2 linked regions of the Homo sapiens genome follow. The protein of the gene in region 1 interacts with the protein of each later gene in a biochemical or structural test. Each region holds a gene or a part of one and is shown in the gene's direction. Other genes may lie near its edges.

The links. The genes of interacting proteins can lie anywhere in the genome.
Region 2: the proteins of SH2B3 (region 1) and ERBB2 form a complex in vitro, tested with the Homo sapiens proteins (2 studies listed by BioGRID and IntAct, with this or other methods).

The regions. Positions count from the first base shown.
Region 1 is NC_000012.12:111,419,397-111,423,045, forward strand, and holds part of SH2B3 (SH2B adapter protein 3), read left to right. Parts: intron 1-1,012; exon of another isoform or gene 1,013-1,092; intron 1,093-3,649. UniProt on the Homo sapiens protein: Links T-cell receptor activation signal to phospholipase C-gamma-1, GRB2 and phosphatidylinositol 3-kinase.
Region 2 is NC_000017.11:39,716,958-39,720,606, forward strand, and holds part of ERBB2 (receptor tyrosine-protein kinase erbB-2 isoform a precursor), read left to right. Parts: intron 1-109; coding exon of another isoform or gene 110-211; intron 212-362; coding exon 363-523; coding exon of another isoform or gene 524-527; exon of another isoform or gene 528-700; intron 701-2,829; coding exon 2,830-2,877; intron 2,878-3,649. UniProt on the Homo sapiens protein: Protein tyrosine kinase that is part of several cell surface receptor complexes, but that apparently needs a coreceptor for ligand binding. Essential component of a neuregulin-receptor complex, although neuregulins do not interact with it alone.

The DNA.
Region 1 (3,649 bases):
GAGGCCAAGGTGGGCAGATCATTTGAGGCCAGGGGTTCAAGACCAGTCTGGCCAACATAGTGAAACCCTGTCTCTACTAAAAATATAAAAAATTAGCTGAGCACAGTGGCGCACGCCTGTAATCCCGGCTACTTGGGAGGCTGAGTCAGGAGAATCACTTGAACCTGGGAGGGAAAGTTACAGTGAACTAAGATTGCACCACTGTATTCCAGCCTTGGTGACAGAGTGAGACTCTGTCTCAAAAAAAAAAAAAATGTTTAGACTTACAGGAAAGTTGCAAAGATAGTAGTGTTCCTTTACACATGGTACCCAGCTTCACCGAAGGTTCACATCTTACGCTGCTGTGTACATTGGTTGTAGCTAAGGAACCAGCACGGGTACATCACTATTAGCTAAACGCCACTGTTCCTTTGGCTTTGCCAGTTTTCCTCTAATGTCCCTTTTCTGTTCCAGCTCGCCCCCCAGGATACCACATGAGGTTTAGTCGTTACGTCTCCTTAGGCGCCTCTTGGCTGTAACAGTTTCCAACCCTCTATTGCTGATAGCCTTGGCAGTTTTGAGGAGTACCAGTCAAGGATTTTGTACAATGTCCAGGGACACCTTTTTGCCTTCACATTTGGGTGTCATGTGGGCTGGTAGCAGGTCACTCTGAGATCCTTGAAAACTCTGACTCAGACTGGCATTGACAGATTGGTGTTTTATTTCCAGAGGGCTCAAAACCTTCAGAGAATTTCTCTGCACCTCCTGTGCCTTGGTGATATTTTGCAAGTTAAAAAGAATTTGTCCTTTGGCAAAACCCCATTGCTACAAAAAATACCAAAATTAGCTGGGCGTGGTGGTGTACGCCTGTGGTCCCAGCTACTCTGGAGGCTATGGTGGGAAGATCGCTTGAGCCCAGAAGACCAAGGCTGCAGTAAGCCAAGATCGCACCACAGCACTACAGCCTGGGTGACAGAGCGAGACCCTGTCTCAAAAAAAAAAAAAAAAAAAAAAAAGTTCTTTTCCTTCACAGCTGGCTTAATTCCTACTGTGCTGTTGAGGCTGAAAGGTCACTGTGTTCTACTCACCTGCCAGGCTCCATCTTTGACTCAGGTATGCATGACAGGACCATATGGCTTTCATCTAATTGCTCTCTCTTTGGGATCCTGTTACGTGGTAGGGCCTTACTCTAGAGCATGAGCAAAACCGATGTGATACTGGCCCTGAGGGGCTCACGATGTGGGTGGAGGAAACCTATGGTTACTCTTTCATTCATTCGACAGATATTTATGGAGCACCTACTATGTGTTAGGCACATGCTAGGTTCTGGGGGACCAGGCGGGCCTAGTGGAGGCTGTTGAGGAAATAAACCCACAGATGAGCATGGAATTAAAAATGGTAAATTGTGTTCTAAAACTGGTAAACTGTGTTCTAAAGGAAAAGCAATGGGGTCTCTGGGAGGATAACTGAGGGGTCCCGGTTTGGCGGTTTGGGAGAGTCATCCAAGAATCCTTTGAAGTAACGTTTTCAAACTGACTGTGGCGTAACATGCAGACCTGGAAGTGCGTGAAGTATGAGACACATCTGAAGCTCTGTGTTTCCGTGTGTGTGCAACGCAAGTGACCAGCACCCCAGAGGGCTCCTTCATGCCTCCCCCAGGCCAGTGCCCTGTACCCCCATACATACCACCTCTTATCACCACAGGTTCGATTTCTCTGTTCTTGAACATCATGTGAATGGAATCACACAGTAGGTTGCCTTTGTTTTATTTTATTATTTTATTTTGAGACAGGGTCTCACTGTGTCACCTAGGCTGGAGTGCAGTGGTGTGATCATGGCTCGCTGTAGCCTCAACCTCCCAGCCTCAGGTTATTTTTGTGCCTCAGCCTCCCCAGTAGCTGGGATCACCGTCACGTGCCACCACTCCCAGCTAATAAATAGGTTGCCTTTTATTTCTGGCTCCTTTTGCCCAGCATAATGTTTTAGAGATTGATCACATTGATCGTACATGTCAATAGTGTCTTCCTTTTTTTTTTTTTTTTTTTTTTTTTTGAGACAAGGTCTCGCTCTGTCACCCAGCTGGAGTGCAGTGGCTCGATCTCAGCTTACTGCATCCTCTGCCTCTTGTCCTCCTGGGCTCAAGCAGTCCTCCCACCTCAGCCTCCCGAGTAACTGGGACCACAGGCACGTGCCACCACACCTGGCTAATTTTTGTATTTTTTGTGGAGATGGGATTTCACCATGTTGTCAAGGCTGGTCTCGAACTCCTGGGCTCAAATGGTCCCCCCACTTCGGCCTCCCAAAGTGCTATGATTACTGGCATGAGCCACCACGCCCAGCCGGGTTTGTTTCTTTTGAGTACTGAATAGATTCCATTGCACAGCTGTCTCCATGTCCCACAACTGGTTTATCCCATCCTCTGTTGATGAATATTTGGGTTGTTTCTATTTTGATTTATGAATAAGGCTGTTATGAAGTTTGCATCTAAGTCTAAATATGGACACACATCCTTTCATTTCTCTCAGGTGGATTCCTAGAAGTGGCATTGCTCAGTCATAGAGTAGGTACATGTTTACTTTAGAGAAATTGCCAGACTTTTCCCAAAGCAGCTGCACCATTTTGTGTCCCACCGGCAGTGGGCGAGAGTTCCGGGTGGTTCCACTTCCCCACCAACACTTGAGCACTTGGTGGGTTTTTTTGTGTTTTGTTTTGTTTTTGTTTTGAGACGGAGTCTCGCTCTGTTGCCCAGGCTGGAGTGCAGAGGCACAATCTCGGCTCACTGCAACCTCCGTCTCCTGGGTTCAAGCTGATTCTCCTGCCTTAGCCTCCCAAATAGCTGGGATTATAGGCGCGTGCCACCACACCCAGCTGATTTTTGTATTTTTAGTAGAAATGGGGTTTCACCATGTTAGCCAGGCACTTGGTGTTAAGAGTCACCGGTGGCTGCGTTCCTGGATCTCAAGGTGGCTTTACTTTGCGTTTCCCTGATGACTCATGGAGGTTAAGCACCTTTTCATATGTTGATTGGTCATCGGAATTTGGTCGTTTGTGAAGTACATGTTTTTATTGTCTGTCTAGCCTTTTTTAAATTGATTTGTAAAAGTCGTTATATATTTTGGACAATTTCTTTGCGTTTTAAAAGTCATTTCCTACCTTTATGGCCTGGCTTTTCATGAAAAGCAGTTTTGTTTTTTTTTTTTCTTGAGATGGAGTCTCACTCTGTTGCCCAGGCTGGAGTGCAGTGGCGCAATCTCGGCTCACTGCAACCTCTGCCTCCTGGGTTCAAGTGATTCTCCTGCCTCAGCCTCCCGAGTAGCTGGGATTACAGGCGCATGCTACCACGCCTGGCTAATTTTTTGTATTTTTAGTAGAGATGGGTTTTCGCCATGTTGGCCAGGCTGGTCTTGAACTCCTGACCTCGTGATCCACCTGCCTCAGCCTCCCAAAGTACTGGGATTACAGGCGTGAGCTACCTCACCTGGCCTCAATTTTTGTATTTTTAGTAGAGATGGGGTTTCACCATGTTGGCCAGGCTGGTCTTGAACTCCTGACCTCAGGTGATCTGTCCGCCTCGGCCTCCCAAAGTGCTGGGATTACAGGTGCGAGCCACCACGCCTGGCCAGGAGGTCACTTACTTTCATTCTAAGTAAATCACTGGGCCTTCCAGGCA
Region 2 (3,649 bases), on another chromosome or scaffold:
ACCTTGCTGGGGTGTGGCAAGAATGAAATTAAACAGGGCTTGGCACAGTGAAGCACGGGAAAGGCTTTCTACAGAGCAGTGACTGTTGTTACTCGCTGTTACACCTTAGGTAATGCGTTTTCCTCTCTGGGTGCCTCCCATTTTCTGGCTCAAGTCCCTGCCCAGGATCAAGCTTGGAGGAGGGCCCCGAGGGAGGGGCCACAGAGACTGGGTGAAGAGCAAGGGTGTTTGTCCCAGGAGCATGGCGAAAATTGCTGCTGGGTGGCCTTGGGAAGCACAAAGGGGACCCAACTAAGGGCCTGATCCTACTGCCCTGGGGGTGTCAGTGCCAGCCCCCCACAAATCTTTTCTGCCCCCCCCAGGAGGCTGACCAGTGTGTGGCCTGTGCCCACTATAAGGACCCTCCCTTCTGCGTGGCCCGCTGCCCCAGCGGTGTGAAACCTGACCTCTCCTACATGCCCATCTGGAAGTTTCCAGATGAGGAGGGCGCATGCCAGCCTTGCCCCATCAACTGCACCCACTCGTGAGTCCAACGGTCTTTTCTGCAGAAAGGAGGACTTTCCTTTCAGGGGTCTTTCTGGGGCTCTTACTATAAAAGGGGACCAACTCTCCCTTTGTCATATCTTGTTTCTGATGACAAAAATAACACATTGTTAAAATTGTAAAATTAAAACATGAAATATAAATTAATGCCCTAGCAGTTCTATCCCCACTGTTAATAATTTGAAATATTTTTCCTCTAGTTATTTTTGTCTGTGCACATTCTAATATGTATATATAAGTTAACATATATTAATATTATTCTCCAGTTATTTTTATCTGTGCACATTTTAACACACACACACACACACACACACACACACATATGTATTTTTAGACGGAGTTTCACTCTGTCGCCCAGGCTGGAGTGCAGTAGTACAATCTTGGCTCACTGCAGCCTCCACCTCCTGGGTTTAAGCAATTCTCCTGCTTCCGCCTCCTGAGTAGCTGGGATTACGGGAACGTGCTACCTTGCCTGGCTAATTTTTGTATTTTTAGTACATAGGATTTCACCATGTTGGCCAGGCTGGTCTCGAACCCCTGACCTCAGGTGATCTGCCAGCCTCGGTCCCCCAAAGTGTTGGGATTACAGCGGTGAGCCACCATGCCCAGTCATATATTTCTTTTTAACAAATAGAATCATAGATCATACATATTGTTTGCAAATTGCTTTTTCTCACTTTCCAGAACCTTGAAATGTTTTTCCATGTTCTAACATGGTGATCTACCTTATTCTTTTAATTTTTCTTATTTAGTTGTCTTTACACATGAAACACATGAATACATCCTTGTGATAAACATTTTCAGTAACATAAAAGTATAAATGTTACAAAGCCAACGTGCCCTTTCACTCAACTCCCTGTCCACCCAGTCTCTCCTGTCTGCTGGGAGAACCACCGCATTGACTTGTGTGTTCACCCTTCCAGGCTCTTTTCTGCACACTTATATAGACATACTACATTTATATTAGGTCGAGTCAAATAAGATTGCTGTTTGTGTAAACCAAAAAGTGTCAAGAGCCTGGGCGCAGTGACTCACACCTGTAATCCCAGCACTTTGGGAGGCTGAGGCAGGCAGATCACTTGAGATCAGGAGTTCGAGACCAATCTGGCCAACATAGCGAGACCCCGTCTCTACTAAAAATACAAAAACTAGCCAGGTGTGGTGATGCTGTTCTGCACTTTGCTTTCCCCCCGACTTGAGGTATCCTTTCTTGTGAGTACAGACGGATCTACCACCTTTATTTTTTTTTTAATTACTCAACCTGTAACATGGATGTAATTTCACTTTGTTTTTGAGGGATATTGAGCTTGTTTCCCTGTTTTTGCAGTTTATTGCAATTGAGCTCCACACACAAGTGAGCCCTCTTTTGTATGCCCCCTAGTGGGAATACAGTGCTGGCAATGTTTATCACAAGGATATATTCATGCATTTCAATTTAAAGACAACTAAATGAGAAAAATTAAAAGAATATGGATCCAGGCTGGGCATGGTGGCTCACGCCTGTAATCCCAGCACTTTGGGAGGCCGAGGCAGGCAGATCACCTGAGGTCAGGAGTTCAAGACCAGCCTGGCCAACATGGCAAAACCCCGTCTCTACTAAAAATACAAAAATTAGCCAGGCGTGGTGGTGGGCGCCTGTAATCCCAGCTATTTGAGAGGTTGAGACAGGAGAATTGCTTGAACCTGGGCAGCGGAGGTTGCAGTGAGACGAGATTGCACCAGTGCACTCCAACCTGGGCAACACAGTGCAACTCCTTCTCAAGAAAAAAAAGAAAAAAAAAAAGAATATGGGTCCAGATCCATATGGATCCTAGATCCAGATCACGGTGTTAGAACATGGAAAAACATTGCAAGATTCTGCTAAGTGAAAAAAGCATTTGCAAACAGTATGTACAGTCTATATTCAGAGGAGGAACTGCTGGGTCATAGATGATATTTCATAGGTATTGCCAAACCGTTCTCTGGAGAAGTGGTATGGGTTTACCCTGGGATTCTTCTATGGAGGGAATAGTTGAGCTCCCGGGCTTGCTCTTCTGGGTGCCCCTCCCCGCTTCCTATCCACCACAAGGAGCTGCAGGGGAGCGGGGCATGCCGGTTCCTTGGCTGGAGAAGGAGTCTCCTTGTGAGGTGGTAGAAGGAGCACTGACGGCCTTGAGCCCAGTTTCTGCCTTTGTCAAATGGGGATAATGACCCAGCCACACCCCTCCCAGGGTTGTTGTGAGGCTGGAAAGGTGGTTCCCAAGAGGGTGGTTCCCAGAATTGTTGATGAGACTGTTTCTCCTGCAGCTGTGTGGACCTGGATGACAAGGGCTGCCCCGCCGAGCAGAGAGCCAGGTTGGCCTGGACCCCAGGATGTACCCTTCATTGCCCTTCACTCCCCCACTGGATGCTGGGTGGTCACTGCTGTAGGGAGGGGACCCCCTGACATATGTCCCTTCCCACCCACTCTTCCACTGTGGAACCTCCTGTCATTTTCCACTTCACCAAGTGACAGAGGACCTGCTCAGATGCTGAGGGGAGGGGACTGCAAGGAAAGATGGCTAGGAAACCCAGTCCCTCCACACCCTAGAGTAACTTGATGCCTTGTGAGGGACACAGGCAAAGTTCAATTCCTTGGAAGTCAAGGGAGACTGAGAAGAGTACAGCTGCAGCACTGAGGGAGTGATGAATTCTTAACTGGGGATGGTGGGAGGCTTCGAGTGGGAGGTGGCATTTGAGCTAGGCTTTGAGAGAGGAGCAGGTATTGCACTTGCATTTAGGTAGAAAGCATTGGGGTGCAAGGTGACACTGGAGGGGGAGGCATCAGGAAATCCAGGATGTCTTCAAAGTTCTGGTGTCGGGGGCTGTTGAGTAAGCACAGGAATAAGGGGGTCAAGTTAGAGTCAGGGTGGGGTCTGACCTGGATGCCATAGGACCTGATCCCCAAGCCACAGGGTGGGACTTGACTGGGCAGTGGGGACCTTTGGAAAGGACTTTGGGGAGAAAAACAGACTGGAGTCTGTCTTAGGCGATCATCGGTCCGTGAAATGAGCATGTGTTACAGGCTTGGTATGTACCAGACCCTGTGCTAAGCAAGGGGGTATGGAGAGGAGAGGGTGACAAGAAT